Regions from separate parts of the Homo sapiens genome. Here region 2 is linked to region 1. A link means that fine-mapping ties the variant in region 1 to the expression of a gene that starts in the linked region. Tissue or cell type: whole blood. Region 1 holds a variant in brackets; the other region holds the start of a gene. All regions are shown on one strand. Distances are between the middles of the regions.

The links. PIP is the estimated chance that this variant, and not a neighbour inherited with it, causes the effect.
Region 2: it holds the start of NUP58, and the variant in region 1 is fine-mapped to the expression of NUP58 in whole blood (TOPMed, PIP above 0.99).

The regions. Positions count from the first base shown.
Region 1 is chr13:25,337,481-25,345,610 of GRCh38, reverse strand. NUP58 (nucleoporin 58) reads right to left here. Exons shown (of 16, transcript NM_014089.4): 15 at 6,880-6,975; 16 at 3,190-5,646. The coding sequence ends at 5,477. Among named protein-coding and RNA genes, the nearest start is that of ATP8A2, 30 kb to the left of the region's middle. RefSeq lists an enhancer at 6,000-6,169. The variant A/G (reference allele first, on the strand shown) is at 3,690.
Region 2 is chr13:25,297,465-25,305,597 of GRCh38, reverse strand. It overlaps NUP58 (nucleoporin 58), which reads right to left and starts at 3,973. Exons shown (of 16, transcript NM_014089.4): 1 at 3,718-3,973. The coding sequence starts at 3,824. RefSeq lists enhancers at 3,678-3,727, 3,838-3,917, 4,078-4,317.

The DNA of each region.
Region 1 (8,130 bases):
TTTCCAAGGTGGACAGACCCCCCCCCACCGCCCCCATCATCCAGTTGCTGGGATGATGCTTTTCTCCATAAACCTCTTCATAGGGAACCAGCAAGAAAAGGTCAAAGATGGACTGCACAAGTCCGGCTCTTGCTTCTTTATAACGCTCTTTACACCACAGATAGTATTCCCTCTCCTTTTAAATCACATAGACCTAGGTACTTACCTTACTTTGCCCTGATCTATCACATACTTGTAGTTTCCCCCATATGAACTGTGTAATCACATTACCTTCAGTGCCTTTCAGTTAGTCATGAAAATCAGCACGCTATTCCTTGATCAGAGACAGGCAGTAAAATATTGTGCTTTGGAATTAAACAGGTCTGGGTTTAAAACCCAGCCCTATGACTTAGCTATGCGACCTCAAGTAAGTTGCTTAACCTTAGCCTCAGTTCCTTCATCTATAAATTGGGTATTTCTGCTTTACACAGTAATATTCAGACTAAACATGGTCAAGTATATAAAATGCTGAGTGGTACCCAGGACAGACTATGCACCCAATAAATGGGGATGTGATGTAAGAGGCAAAGAGGACTTTGTGCATGAGATTTAAGTTAGGTATGCCAACTCAAGACTTCCCAGGACACTGGCTCATGTTAGCAAGGCCCAGAATCCTGTGACTGAATAAGCCTGTCTTGGTGTGTGCTTCAAAAAGTGTGGCAAAGTCAGCCTTATTCACAGAAAAGGTAGGACATTAACTCGGATTTACTATATTATCATCAGAAAGGACAGGAAATAACTGGTTGTAATAATGTAAATGACCTCATACCTACTACAGGATAAAAATTTGCACTCAATTCAAATCAAGATGGTTAGTAAAAATAATCAAACAAGAATCTAATAAAAACTTTGTTAAAAGAACAAAAGACCCAACAGATGCATGTATCATGCTGTGCTTATTGTTGTCAATTTCCCCCAGGACGTATTTTGTGTAAATCCAATAAAAATCTCAGAATTTTTAAAGAAAAATCAAACTCAATAAAATAGACACTAAAGTTCATCTTAAAGACTAAGTGTCCTAGAATAGCCTCCCCACACAAAAACAAACAAAAAGGCTAAGATAAAGCAGCTTCCTATCAGGTATACAAATAAAGCATCCGGCTACAATGATTAAGGCAGTGGGGTATTGGTGCAGGAAGACCTAATGCTTCTCAGGTGTCAGGGGTTACACTATCCAAATGCTTTAGATTATATTATTAGTATAACCACCCATGTATATCATCCTTATTTTCTAGAGGATAAAGCTGAAGTCTAGAAGTTACATAACTTGCTTAAAATCACACATGGTCAAGGCGGGATTCTGAACACAGCTGACTAGACATATCTCTCAGGAAAAATATTAATACCTATTATCTACAGAGGTCCTACAAATCATTAAGAAAAAACCCTAATTTGGTATAAAAATTGCCAAAGGATATAATAAGCAATTACATTAACATACAAATAGCTGATACATATTAAAAAGGTTGACCTCACAAAGACTTATAATTAGGATTACAATTAACTGGGATCACAAAGAATACTAGGAAATGGATATACATGCTGGTAGGAGTATATATTTGTATAGCATTTTGGGAAGGCAATGTGACATTAAAACACACAATTTATATGACTTTTCAGCAATTTATTTCCAGAATCAACCCCGAAGAAACTGAAATAGTCAAATGAACCTAACCATCCAGAGAATAGTTGGTGTGGGGTGTGTGTGTGTATGTATGTGTGTGTGTGCGTATATATATATGTGTATATATATATATATATATATACATATATATGTGGAATACTACACAGCCACTAAAAAGGAATGGATGAATTGGCTGGGCATGGTAGCTCACGCCTATAATCTCAGCACTTTGGGAGGCCGAGGCGGGCAGATTACCTGAGGTCAGGAGTTTGAGACCAGGCTGGCCAACATGGTAAAATACATCTCTACTTAAATCTCTACTAAAAATACAAAAATTAGCCAGGCGTAATCATGCCTGCAATCCCAGCTACTCCAGAGGCTGAGGGAGAACTGCTTGAACCCAGGAGGCAGAGGCTGCAGTGAGCCGAGATGGCATCAGCCTGGGCGACAAGAGTGAAACTCCATCTCAAAAAAAAAAAAAGGAATGAATTAATGGCATTTGCAGCCTGGATGGGATTGGGAGACTATTACTCTGAGAAGAAACTGCACATGTATACATATGTAACTACCCTGCACATTGTGCACATGTACCCTAAAACTTAAAGTATAATAATAATAAATTTAAATAAATAAATAAAAATTTAAAAAAAGAGAAGAAACTCAGGAATGGAAAACCAAACATCCTATGTTCTCTAAGTGGGAGCTAAGCTATGAGGATACAAAGGCATTAAGAATGATACAATGGACTATGGGAACTTAAGAGGGGAAGGGGTGGGAAGAGGGTGAGGGATAAAAGGCTACAAACTGGGTCAGCGCCTACTGCTCAGGTGATGGGTGTACCAAAATCTCACAAATCACCACTAAAGAACTTACTCATGCAACCAAATACCACCTGTTCACCAATAATCTATGGAAATAAAAAAAATTTTAAAAAATTACATTTCCTAAAAAAACCACACAGTAGTTGAAACAGATCATTGTACACCCATTCTATGGGACAGTATGTAAAAAGTAAATCTATATAGACACAGAAAGATGCTGATGATATACTAATAGAAGGGAAAAAGAACAAGTCCAGAACACAAACTTTTTAACCTATTTGTTAAAAAAGTAAAGAGGGATCCAAGAGAATAAAATGTGATAAAAAATCAGAGAGAATATAAAAGAAAAAGAAAAGAGAAGTAACATTTATATATTCTTTTAAGACATATTTAAAAGGGTCTACAAGGATACATATCAAACCATCAGACTGCACACTAGGAAATGGAAGGGAATTAGGGCCCAAAAGTTCAAAGGGATTTTTCCTTTTTTACTCAATATTATTCTTTATAACTAAAAATGTTCACTGTTTTTGTCATTTTGAGAAGACAAAAGCAAGTGAGAAATAATTTACTATCTTATGTTCACTCTTCTGTTTAAAAAAGAGCAAGATGTATAAACCAATGAAGGGAATATACTAAAACCCAACCGGAGACTAAAAGAGCAATAATAAAATTACATATTAAGAACAGCTACTGACACCTATAAAGAATCAAAGCAACTGACACAATAAATTTTATTGTTTCCATAATAATAGGCTCTGGACAAAGACAATGGAGACAATGACAACACATTTAAACTCCTATAACAAATTAATCTGTTACAAATTTCCAGTGGCTCAACATATTAAAATGCAAAACATATAAAGAAAAAAACAAGAAATATAAATATTCAGATTTTTGCAGTACAATGAAATGTCTTTTAAAAAAAGTTTGTTGTAATTGTGTATGTAATTCTGACAGTAATTCAAAACACAAAATCACACATTTTCCCTAACTTCCCATGTTCTGGATCTGGGGACTGCAATATTACAGAAATATGCAAAAATAAGTTTAGTGCTCAGAGATAAATAATTTTCCTTATTTCAATGCATCAATGCGCAAAAATTTCAATTCAAAAAAGCCAACCACTGCTATATGCAGATAAATAAAACATTTGACAACACTTTTATAATCAAACCCAACATTATACAAAAAATGTGTGGCAC[A/G]TGCACATACGTGTGCATATGTGTATGCAATGCCTATTTTAGAAAAAAGGTGTCTTGATGAAAATGATTTTGAAAATAGTCACTGACACACATTATATACAAAACCTTTTATATAAAAAATTAAACTATTTTCAATGAAATTCCATGTTCACATCCTATCTGAAAATTGCAATTGAATCATAAATAGGTCTACTAACGAAATCATGGCTAAGGCAGTTCTCTTTCCAAGGGTTTTCTTTTATATCCACCTGATGTCACTAATACTAATGTAGTCAAATATACAGATGCAACCTGACATGCCTATGCGTTATTACCTGGAGCTCTGTTCACTGTTATAATGGGAGAATTTACAGTTGCTACAAAGAATATTTTTCTTTTTTAAAATATACTGGTTTCTCTATTCCAAATTAAGCACTTACTTAAGACATTAAGAGGCTGAGAAGCCACTCCATTTGGTGTCAATATCAATAGCCCTATAAGAAAGAACTCTGTATTGGAATAGCTAGAAAAGTTCTCACTAAAGTGAGAACTTTAGTGCATCCTTCACCTGCATAGAATCAGTTTGGCTAATAGCTCTTTGCCCCAGAACACCAGTCTGGAGTTCAAATAGGCTCCTGAAAGTTCATCTCAGATAAGAAAAAAACATCTCACAGAAGCAATGTAAGGACACACAGGATAATAAAATGGTTAAAATCTGTTTGATGAGTCTTACTTACAGCATTCCTCATTTGGAGGAGCTGCTATAGGTTAAGGTGGAAACAAAAATGGAAAAGATCAGGGGCAATAAAGTTGAGTTGGCCAAGTATTTACGCCAGTAACCATTTCAATAAGTCTTTAAGCAAACAACTGCAATGACCTGGTACCTCTAAGCTCATCATTCTACAAGCACTGAGGATATGAAGCTTAAAAGGTGAAAACTTGAATACCCTTAGAAAAGGGGAACAGTCTGAGGCAAAAGTTGTAGGCCTGTAAATATATATTTTATTTTATTTTCATCTTTTTTGAGACGGAGTTTTGCTCTTGTTGCCCAGGCTGGAGTGCAGTGGTGTGATCTCGGCTCACTGCAACCCCCACCTCCCGGCTTCAAGTGATTCTCGTGCCTCAGCCTCCCGAGTAGCTGGGATTATAGGTACCCGCCACTATGCCCAGCTAATTTTTGTATTTTTCGTAGAGATGGGGTTTCACCATGTCAGGCTGGTCTCAAACTCCTGACCTCAGGTGATCCGCCTGCCTCGGCCTCCCAAAGTGCTGGGATTACAGGCGTGAGCCACCACGCCTGGCGTAAATATGTATTTTATATGCACACACAACTGTGTGTATTATTCTGTATATATTTACATACATATTCACAAGATGCCCTGCAGTATAATTCAAAAGGCCTTTAACAAGGAACAAATTGATTCTAGTATAGGCCCTAGAGTTCACACCACCTGTATAAGAAACAAATGTGCATGTATTCACATAATGTAAACCTCATCAACAAAAACACTAGGTTAAATAGTAAGTTTTAGGTTAATGGTTTCTAACCATTACCAATCAGTGATGTAATCAGAACATTTCTTACACTGAGAATCAAATTAAAAAGAAAACACAGCTGGACTTTAAATTCCACAAGAAAAAAGATGTTCAGTATGGCAAACATGAAGAAAGTTCAAATTCCAGAGTAGGGAAAAATATCAAAACTTTATAAATCTCCTGGGATGCAATTTAATTACTGCATCATTAGAAAAATAGACTCATAGAATGAACGGTGCTGCTATGGATTCTCTCAACACATCAACCCATGTTTATCTTTTTCCTCTTTTGTTTCCAGCTGGAGGTTTCTTCAACTGAAGGAGTTGTCCTCCTGTTCCAAAACCTGCAGAGGCAGGATTGGACACCCCAAAAGTCAAACCAGCTGATGCCGTGATGCCAGGATTGCTGAAGTTAAACCCAGATGTACTTGAGCTGCCAAAGCCTTATGTTTAGGGAAAAAAATATTCATATCAGAAGTTGAATTCCAAAAACAAATATAAAAACAGGGAGGAGCAGTAAATTTCTATCTAAAAGAATACATAATCTGTAAGAATAGCAAATATATTAAAGCCCTAAATTTCTAACATGAAATTTTAACAGGAAAATAATATAGCTAACAACTAAGTGGCACCCTGAAAGAGAGTGTAGTGATGCAGGTCAAAAGAGAAACCTTAGCACAAATTACTAAAATCTATATAAACTTCAAGTTGCCAGAAACTTTCCTGTTAATTAAATATGTCAAGGTGCCTTCCTCCTTAGACCCACCAAAAACATTTTATCAACATGTAGAAGAGAGACATTCACATATCTGGACCTACCCTTGCAATCCCAAGTCCTCCAGGAAAGCTTCAACCCACAATGTTCAAGACAATGAACAAACAAAAGAGCAGTACTTACTGTTTTGATTTTATAAGAGCTTTTGCAAAATTAAGATCTAGTACTACTACTGCCTAGTTAACTAATACAATATTTCAATTATAATCCTGATAACATGGAATCCTATTATTATCTTCCTCCACTGGAACTGCTGATTTTAAACGCTACTTAATTCCTTCAAATTCTCTAAATTTAAACACATCTTTCACAGTATTATGTCATTACATTAGATATGGTATTTGTCCCTAAGCACTGCACATTAAAACAAGCCATATTTACCAATATAAATGCAAAAGTAGATGAAATTTGGAATTTTTCATAAGAAGAGTCAAAAAATTATACCTATTTCAAAAATGAACAAGAAACTAAATTAATAATCATTTGTAAGACTGTGGTATTCTTAAAACCAGAGGGACCCTGGAATAGAAATCATTCTCCAGGATGAATTATGACAAAAAACTTAAACTTTCACAATGATGGGTTCCTTTTTGTAATAATGAAGAAAATTATTTAACCATGAAGTTAGTCACTAGAGTTCAAATGAATCTCTGAGTTAGAAGATGTAATTAATTATTAAATCAAACTAAGAAGTCTTGTTAGAAGTATTTTACAAACCTGCCCTTTAGTTTATGAGAGAGATAAAGTAAAATGATTAGTTAGGCTTGCACACTTCATCCAGGGAGTAAAAACTGAATCAGGGAGGGAACTTTTTGGGTTACTGGAAATAACAACACATACTTTTAAATTAAATAATTTACACCTTTAAATTTGCCTGAAATCCAGGCAGAAACACACAAACCTGCACTAAGACTTCCTGAGGGTTTATTTGTTGTTCCAAATCCAAATGTGGAGGCCCCTGTGGTGCTGCATCCAAAACCAGAGCTAGTTCCAAATCCTAGTGGAAGGGTAATAGAAAAATATACAATGGCACATAAAACACAGGTTAAAGGATATGGACAAGTACAACCGAAAATCATCAGAGGTCTAACAGATACAGTGCTGAAAAACATGGCCTTATTAAGGAAATCTGCTTACTCCTTTGCATGAGACTTTTAGAAGAACTAGACTAATTCTGAAATAAAACGTTTATATCTATTTAGACTAAGTTTGTGACCCATCAATTTTTAAAGAACAAGGCCATAAAAAAGAAATTAGTATTTTCTCTTCTAAATGTGCTAGAAAATTTTACCCACCATTCAAGTATGATTTTAGTCAGTTATAACCATTTCCACTTTAGGGGTATTTCATTTCACAAAAAAAGGACTAAATACATTAATAAGCATGACATGCACTACAATGTAAACACTAAATACTACAAGGTTATTTTACTCTGCTCTTTCCCAAAACATTTTTAATTAAGAATCTGAAACGCTGAAAAACTCTGCATAACTACATAATCAAGCACTTTAAATCTACTCAGTAACAGTAGATTCCTGCCATACTACCAGCCAGTTTAACAGTGAAAAATTGGTGGTGAGAAGATCATGGTTTTTCTCTTAACAATACTATCTTCATCATTTAAAAAAAGAAGTATTTTTCATCACACAAAGTTCATGACATTCTAAGTACTTGAAGACTAGTTTCCACTCTCCTAAGAGACAGGTGCTCTACAAATAAAGTTCAAATTCTTTTTTGGTTATTTTGCAATAGCTTATCTAAAATACTGAGTGTGACAGTATCATTGCCTGTAACAATAAGAAATGTGATGGCAAATTAATTATAGATTATAGGAATTATGCTATCTGCCAGATTCTAATAATTCCTAATTTAGAACAGAGTCTATATTAAACAACCGTAATAGCTTATAGGTCTCCCGTCTTATATTTTAGTGGAAATAAGGGCAACTTATTCATTACATTATAATGTGCCTGTGAAAATACAACCAACTTTCAGTTATCCATATCAAAGAATTGTGAATGCATTTGTATTTAGCATGATGTTTTTGCAGAGGACTTACCTTACTAACCTTATGAAAGTATTAAAATAAGCTTAATTGCTTATGTAAACAAGCATGTATATAGGCAAATTTGCCAAATGTGCTTAGAAATGG
Region 2 (8,133 bases), 40 kb after region 1:
ATACTGAGTAGGTAAAAGGAGAAGTACTGATTTTTAAAATGTGTTTGTGTGCACCTTGGGCATATGAAGGCGAGGCAGGAGACAAAGCAGGGCGGTAAGCTCTCGCTAACAATTAAAACACAGATCTTGACCAGGCCGGGTGGCTCACACCTGTAATCCCAGCACTTTGGGAGGTTGAGGTAGGCAGACTGCTTGAGCCCAGAAGCTTGAGCCCAGCCTGGGCCACATGGTGAAACTCTCTCTACCGAAAAAACAACAACAAAAAACTTCCAAAAAACAAAAATTAGCCAGGCGTGCCAATGCACACCTGAATGTAATCCCAGCTACTCAGGAAGCTGAGGTGGAAAGATCACTTTAGCCCAGGAGGTGGAGGTTGTAGCGGGCTGAGATTGCGCCACTGCATTCCAGCCTGGGAGACAGGGCAAGGCCCTGTCTCAAAAAAAAAAAAAAAAAAAAAAAAAAAAAAACCCCACAGATCTTTAAACATTTAGTCTTAATTTAAAAGGTATTTTTAACAACATATTGCTACAATCAAAACTAAGTGAGATCACACACACAGAAACCTAAGTGAGCGCTACAAGCAAAAGAATATAGTATGTAATGGCTATATCCAGACAACATAGGTAGTACAACCATAAAAGGGGCATATATGCCAAAACATTTAGCTTAGCTGGTAGTAGTCTGATCGTATTGTTATTTTGACACTGTTGTGTGTATAATGTGGAGTAGGGTAAATGAGTATTTGGGGGATACTAAAACATTACTGCCGGCTGGGTGTGGTGGCTCACGCCTGTAATCCCAGCACCTTGGGATGCCAAGGTGGATGGATCACCTGAAGTCAGGAGTTTGAGACCAGCCTGGCCAACATGGTGAAACCCCATCTCTACTAAAAATACCAAAAATAAAAATAAAAAATTTAGCCGGGTGTGGTGGCGTGCCTGTAATCCCAGCTATTTGGGAGGCTGAGGCAGGAGAATTGCTTGAACCCGTAAGGTGGAGGTTGCAATGAGCCAAGATCACGCCATTGCACTCCAGGCTGGGTAACAAGAGTGAGACTGTCTTAAAAAAAAAAAAAAATACATATATATATATATATATATATATATATATATATATATAATCTTGACAACATAACTGAAGACATTATGAAGTATTACATAATGAAAGTTGAAAATACTGCCAAAGAAACACATCAAAATGAAATTTTTCTCTACCACAAAAGCAAGAGAGAAATTTTGGTGGCAGTGAAATTTACTAAATTCAAGAAAAGCAAAAGCTACCCTAAACTTGACCAATTATTGCCTCAAACCAATGTTATCTGCCAAGGACTTGATAGGATGTACTGTAGAAAAGCCAACTTGACTCAATCACATCTGGAATGTTATTTTAACTTGCCCAGCTTGCCCTAATGCAGACTTGGTAGCTAACATAATAGCTAAGATTTACTGAGCACTTAGCAAGTGCCAGACTTGATGCTAAATATTTAAATACTTCATCTCACTCATCAACTCAGGTAATATATTATACTCCTTTTCCAGATGTGAGAACTCCCCTAAAATGACCAACCTCAAGACATCAAATCACTAGGTGGCACTAGGGGCTGTCAGGCCTCCCAACCAGCACTCTAACAAATTTATGTCGGACAGTCTCCTCTTTCATTAATTTATCCAAGCCTCTCTAAAACTTGGGTAATTTTTTATAGCTTATTACTAATAACTCATTTGCTCAGTCATTCAAATTGTTATTAAAGCCCTTTTTCTATGCCAGGCACTGTCCTTGGGACTGACAATGAGGTGGGAAATTAAGACTCAGACCTTGCCCTCAGGCAGTTTCTAGTCAGTGAGAGACATAGGTATTAATTATTCTAGTGCTGAGATCTGACAACAAACAAGTTAACAATAAATATAACAAACTGATTACAATTGTGATCAGCACTCTAAGAGTACTAGGAGAATGGAAATCTCCCCTAGACTGACAGGTCAGAAAAGGCCTCTCTGGGGAAGAGACCATTTGATATTTGCAAGGAAGGGGCTGGCAAAGCCCACTTGAAAAGAGAAAAGGCCATGTTGCTAGGACAGGCTTTCTAAGATCAGGACCATGAGAGAAATATAAAAATTAATTCATCAAGTCATAAGCAACATTAAAAAAAAAAAGAAATAGAAAATATCAAAGTGCATCCCATGAAGTAAGGGTATCTTTCTCTGAAACTTCATTTCAGTTATTTAGGGTGGTAGTTGTGTGTTTGTTTTTAACAGTGGGTCTGCATAGCTAAAATAAAAAGATGGGCTCAAGATGAGTCCCGCTCAAGATGAGTCCCCAGAGGTTCCAGCAGAAGTGGACCTTGCAGACTATGGTAAGTTTTTTTTTCTTTTTTAAACTTCATTCTAACGATGGCGGGTAATGATTAAAGAGAGAGCAATGGGAATTTTGTTTTTCAATTACTCTGGCTAAAATGTGGCAGAACAGATTGAAGAAGTTGATTGGAGTAGTTTTCATCTAAAACAAGAAAGACAGCTGGTTAAAAATCTGACAAGAATCAAAATTATTTTCATAAGAATGTAAGGATCAAGAGAGCAAGACTCTTAATACCTAAAACAGAGCCTTGCACATGGGAATCTGTCCAATAAATATTTGTTCCACGAATGACAATAGCCTAAGCAGGGTTGTGGAACTGGAAATAAAGACAAACAGAAATGGCAGAAGTAACATTATCAGAACCTGTTGTTGAGCGAGTAGAGTAAGAATAACGGAGGTATGGATGAAAATTCAAATTTCTGAATTGACTGTGTAGTCCGTGGTTCCTCCTCCCTCCCTTTTTAAACTGCAGGTCATGCTTAAGTATTTGCCTTTTAAATCTACAGCCACATCTTTTAAGCTTCAGGAAGTATCTTGTTGACAGTGTGCACACTCCTTAACTTTATGAACCCCTCCACCTTTATCTTAAAAAAAATTGAGTTCTAAAGCTTAAATCTCTCATTAAAATGTCTCACCACTTTGTTTCTTTCTGGATAGTTATGTTTTTGTCGCCACCTGAACTAATGGGTTGCACAAAAACAAGGAACATGCTACCTACGTTTTGTAATTTAAGTAAAAGACAAATTGAGTTATTACAACACAACATTCTCGCATCAGATATACTAATCTGCACATACTGCAGAAAATTACCACTAATAAACACTGTAAAAAAGTGTTTTTGTTTTTTTTAACAAAAACAGATAAGGTCCCATGTGGCACAAAAGCTTGAAAAGCTGGTTAAAAACCACAAAGTTATTAAAACACCGTCATATCCAAAACCGCAAATGCTGCAATGAAATCGGAATTATCTATCATAAAACTCCACAGTATGCTATAATTTCATTCATTCATTCAATGTTCATTCTATGCCTAAGACTGACACATCGCTAAAGCTCCGGGGTAGACCCCAAGGCCCTTCCACGCAGTCAAGACCCCACTAGGTCCAAATAATGCCTGAACTATACGTGGATTCTGGAAACCTCACAGCACAGAACCCATCCCGCCCTCCACTTCACCAGGCCGCGCTGGGCCCGGGTACCGCGGCGAGAGGCCTACGACGCCGGGCGGCTAGATTAAGTGCTTCTCTCCAGCCCCACTGGGAAGGAAGCCAGAGGGAAGAGACAGGATGGGGACACCAAGGGAGCTTTGCGGGGGTGGGGGTGGGGGTGAATCCGGCCCAGGAAGGCGAGAAAGTGCGGTTACCTAGACGCTCCCGTTCCGAAGGAGAAAACGCCGCCTGTGCTGGTCCCGCCGGCGGCCACGGTGGTGGAGCCCAGAGTCCCGGACCCGAAGGAGAACCCTGTGGACATGTCTGGCCAGGGCTCGACGCCGTCAGCAAGGCGAAATGGGTCTGGGACACTTCTCTCGCCTCAAAGCCGAGGCGGGCCGGGCAGCATCTCTCTCGCCCGGCACGGACCTGGCGGGAACTTCCAGCCCCAACGGCGGCGAAGGCAAGGCTGAGGGGGTGGAGCAACCACGCAAAAGTACGCCCGGCGCTCGCCGCGCGCACGTAGCCCGCCGGAAGTGTAACCGTCACGCAATGAGCCCTGGTACGTGAGTGGGGGACGGCGAGCCGCGCAAGGTACGCTGGGACCAGGCGAGAATAGGCGTACTGCCTAATCTCTTAAAGGAGTAGGCTCCCAGAGTTTAAAAACAGTAAAACCATTTCTGTCATTTTTTAGTTCTTCTATCGTAGCATCTGTACTGACATAATCCGCACTTTAGGGTGATGAATGTCAATTGCTACTTCTATCTAGCCTCCTGCCAAAATTGATGCTCAGAATCGCAGAATCGGGGAGGTCCCTCCTGAGCATCTCTAAGCTCCCCACTCAGAAAAGGAGGCGGCTTCGGGCTTTCGTTGGCTGCCGCCCCATCCCTAAGAAGGAAGGGGAGCGTGTCTGCTTCCTGAAGGTTCGGAAATCAATCGAAAATAATCCATGCAACCGTCCCACGACGTGAGCCCCACCCCTGCGCCCCAGGCCTCGCGGAGCCAGTTGGTCGCAGTTGTTGCGAGCCCGACGCCCAGCCCCGAAGGGGGCCCAGAAGAGCGTCCCAGGCGTCCGTGGGGTGGCCGGCTGTGGTCCTGGCGCCCAGAAGTGGCCAGGCCCGCTGGATTTCCTGGGATGCGGTCAAGTCCACAAATACTGTCCGTGCATCCTGATGCTGGAGGGCGGGACCTTGGGCCGAGCGAGTGTGGCTCCGCCAGAAGGGCCCTCGGACACAACCGGTGCTGGAGGAACTACAAAGTGGAAGGATTAGGAAACGCACAGGAACATGTACGAAAGAAGGCGAAATGTGAGGTGTAACTTACATTTCTAGGATAACTCAAGAAAAATTCGCGTTTAAAGAGAACCTCTCTGGCGAAGCATCAGGAAAGGCTTCCTGGTGGTGGTGCATTCGAGGGTTGTCATCATAGTGTTAGTTTTTATTTTTCCCTCAGGGATTGTTACATTACTCCCCCAAATGGTTTTCCTACTCGTGATCTCTAACAAAATCCATCCCATAAGCAACCCCCGGATTTATGATCTAAAAAGCCCAGTGGCTCTTTAGTTTGGCACTTGATGACCTCCGTATGATTAGTCTTTCTAACCTCATCTCACAGTTCTCCCTAATTCAGTACTTTAATCTTCCGTTGAGCTTGGGCATTGCCACCAGCTGTGGACTGAACTATTTCCCTCCTCCCCCAATCCATATGTTAAAGCCCTACCCCACCCCAATATGTTGGTATTTGGAGATGGAGCCTTTGGGAGGTAATTCAATTTAGATGAGGTCACCTTGGTGGGTCGCCCATGGCGAGATTAGTGCCCTTATGAGAAAAAACAACGAAGAGCTTGTTCTCCTCTGTGTGCCATGTGAGGACAGAGCAAGAAGGGGCTTTCACCTGGAACCCAAACTGCCCCATCTTTATCTGGGACTTAGCCTCCAGAATTGAGAGAAGTAAATGTCTGTTGTTATAGCCACCTCAGTCTATGGTATTTTGTTGTATCAGCCAAGCAGACTAATACACCACCTCTGTGTTTGTATAATTAAAAAGAAACGTACATTTTATTTTGTTTTTTAAATTTAATTTATATTTTACTTTATTTTGAGACAGAGTCTCGCTCTGTTGCCCAGGCTGGAATACAGTGGTGCCATCTCGGCTCACTGCAACCTCCGTCTCCTGAGTTCAAGCGATTCTCCTGCCTCAGCCTCCCAAGTAACTGGGATCACAGGCGCACGCCACCACGCCCGGTTAATTTCTGTATTTTTCAGTAGAGATGGGTTTTCACCATGTTGGCCAGGCTGGTCTTGAACTCCTGGCCTCAAGCGATCTGCCCACCTCGGCCTCCCAAAGTGCTGGGATTACAGGCGTAAGCCACTGTGCCCGGCCATAACATTTTAAACGTCATAGAAGTCATAATGGGAATGATAAAAAAGAAAAAAGGGATATATTTGGATTAAGATATAAATAAAAACTTCATAGTTATCGAACAGGAGGCAAAAATAAAAGATTGTTGTGAGTTTTAAAGCTTCGGTGATATAGAGAAAGCTATTTTCAGTGATGGCTATAGGGTGGTCAGTAAGAGGATTGTTCACATAAAGTCTAGGAGACTTCCTTTTGACTGAAAAAAAAAAAGATCCTGATGATTTTTATGGGAAGATAGAAAGGCACTCCCTATGTCTTTTGATTTTCTCGTGTATTCTTTCCAAAACTATTGAAGAATACCAACCTACAATTAGTAATAGCAAAATGGCTGGCACTTAAATATATAATAATGAACAAGACTTGTAATATTCACAGGAAAGAAAGAACATGTAAAAATATCATAGGGACTAATTTCCTAATAGGGGAAACTGGGTGTGAGGAATATGAGCACACTATGTAATAATTCTGTAAATCTGTAACTTTTTTTTTTTTTGGATGGAGTCTCACTCTGACACCAGGCTGGAGTGCACTGGCTAGATCCTGGCTCACTGCAACCTCCGACTCCCTGGTTCAAGCGAGTCTCCTGCCTCAGCCTCCTAAGTAGCTGAGATGACAGGCATGCGCCACCATGCCCAGCTAATTTTTGTATTTTTAGTAGAGCTGGAGTTTCACCATGTTGGCCAGGATGATCTCAATCTCCTGACCTTGTGATCTGCCTGCCTCGGCCTCCCAAAGTACTGGGATTACAGGCGTAAGCCACCGCGCCCAGCCACATCTATAACTGTTTTGAAGCTGAACGTTTATAAAAGAAATAAAGGAAGTCTGACTTAGATTAAAGTTTGGGTTTTGGGGGAAGCCATTCCAATTAACAAGCAAACTATCCTTTCAACTTTATCAAAATTTTAGTGTAGCATTTCTTGCCTTGTATCTGGCAGAATATTTTAAGTTATACTACATAATAAATCCCCAAATCACTCAAGGAGGAGCACTGCAGAGACAAAATCTGGAATATCTGATGAGCAGTATTGCAATCTACCACTAGATGCACTAAGTATAAGACTAAATCTTGGAGACCCCTTCTCATCTCATATACCTTGTGCCGCTTGTCCTATTAGTGAAGAAAGAAATTACATCCTTACATTCTACAGAAATGAAACTCCAAAGAAAGCAGCTTTCAATAAGCTCAATGGTTTGGTTAGTGAATGGAAAACAGTAAAATAGCAGTAACTGAGCATTACGCATACATAAGTCTGAATCCTATCTGCAACTGAGCAGAACCATGGAGCACTGGAATCTGGCTTAACCTTCCTGACCTAGTCTAGGTAGAGTAACAAATCCTATCCCAAAGGATCTTCTAAATATTACGCTTTTTAACATTAGAGGACTTGAACCTATGTGTCAGTTCTATGTGAATTGCTGCTTCCAGGGATGAAGCAAGTGCTTCAGATTCTAAATTCTAGAGTAGGCCATCTTGTCTTTCCTTGCTTCTTATATTGTAAGCATTCTGTTAGAGAACTGCATCTTTTGCTGATTTGCCAGCAGGATGATGACATTGTTAATGTCATAATCAAACTGAATTATCCAAACAGAAATAGCACTGTAAAAAATTTACTTTTTTTTTTTCTTCCTTTTTGAGACAGGGTCTGGCTCTGTGCCCAGGCTGGAGTGCAGTGGCACCATCTTGGCTCACTGCAACCTCTGCCTGTCTGGCTCAAGCGATCCTCCCACCTCAGCCACCCGAGTAGCTCGGACTACATAAAGGTGTCCACCACCATGCCCGGCTAATTTGTTTATTTGTAAAGATGGGTTTTCACCGTGTTGCCCAGGCTAAAACTTCTAATTTGTGTTTGCATTAACATATCTAAAATAGGTTTGCTTTGGTGGGGGTGTTCAGATCAGGATAACCATTTGAGAACCTCTCTCAGCAGCGGTTCTAAGACAGAAAAGAAGTGGGAATCTGAAGTCTATTGAAAGGAGTCTGTAATATCTCCAGTTCTGGTCCTCTGAAATATCCAGAAAAGAGGTTATCTTTTAGAAATTACATGTAACCATTTGCCTTCAATCACAGTCTTTATCTTGAAAATTATTCTCAGAAAAGGTCTTAAATATTTTAGGGTTTTAAATATTTGAGTAGTGTCCTTCCACTTTAAAAATTCATTAAGTTCTCAAGTGATTGAACAACAGCAACAACCAAATGTATATAGAGAGATAAA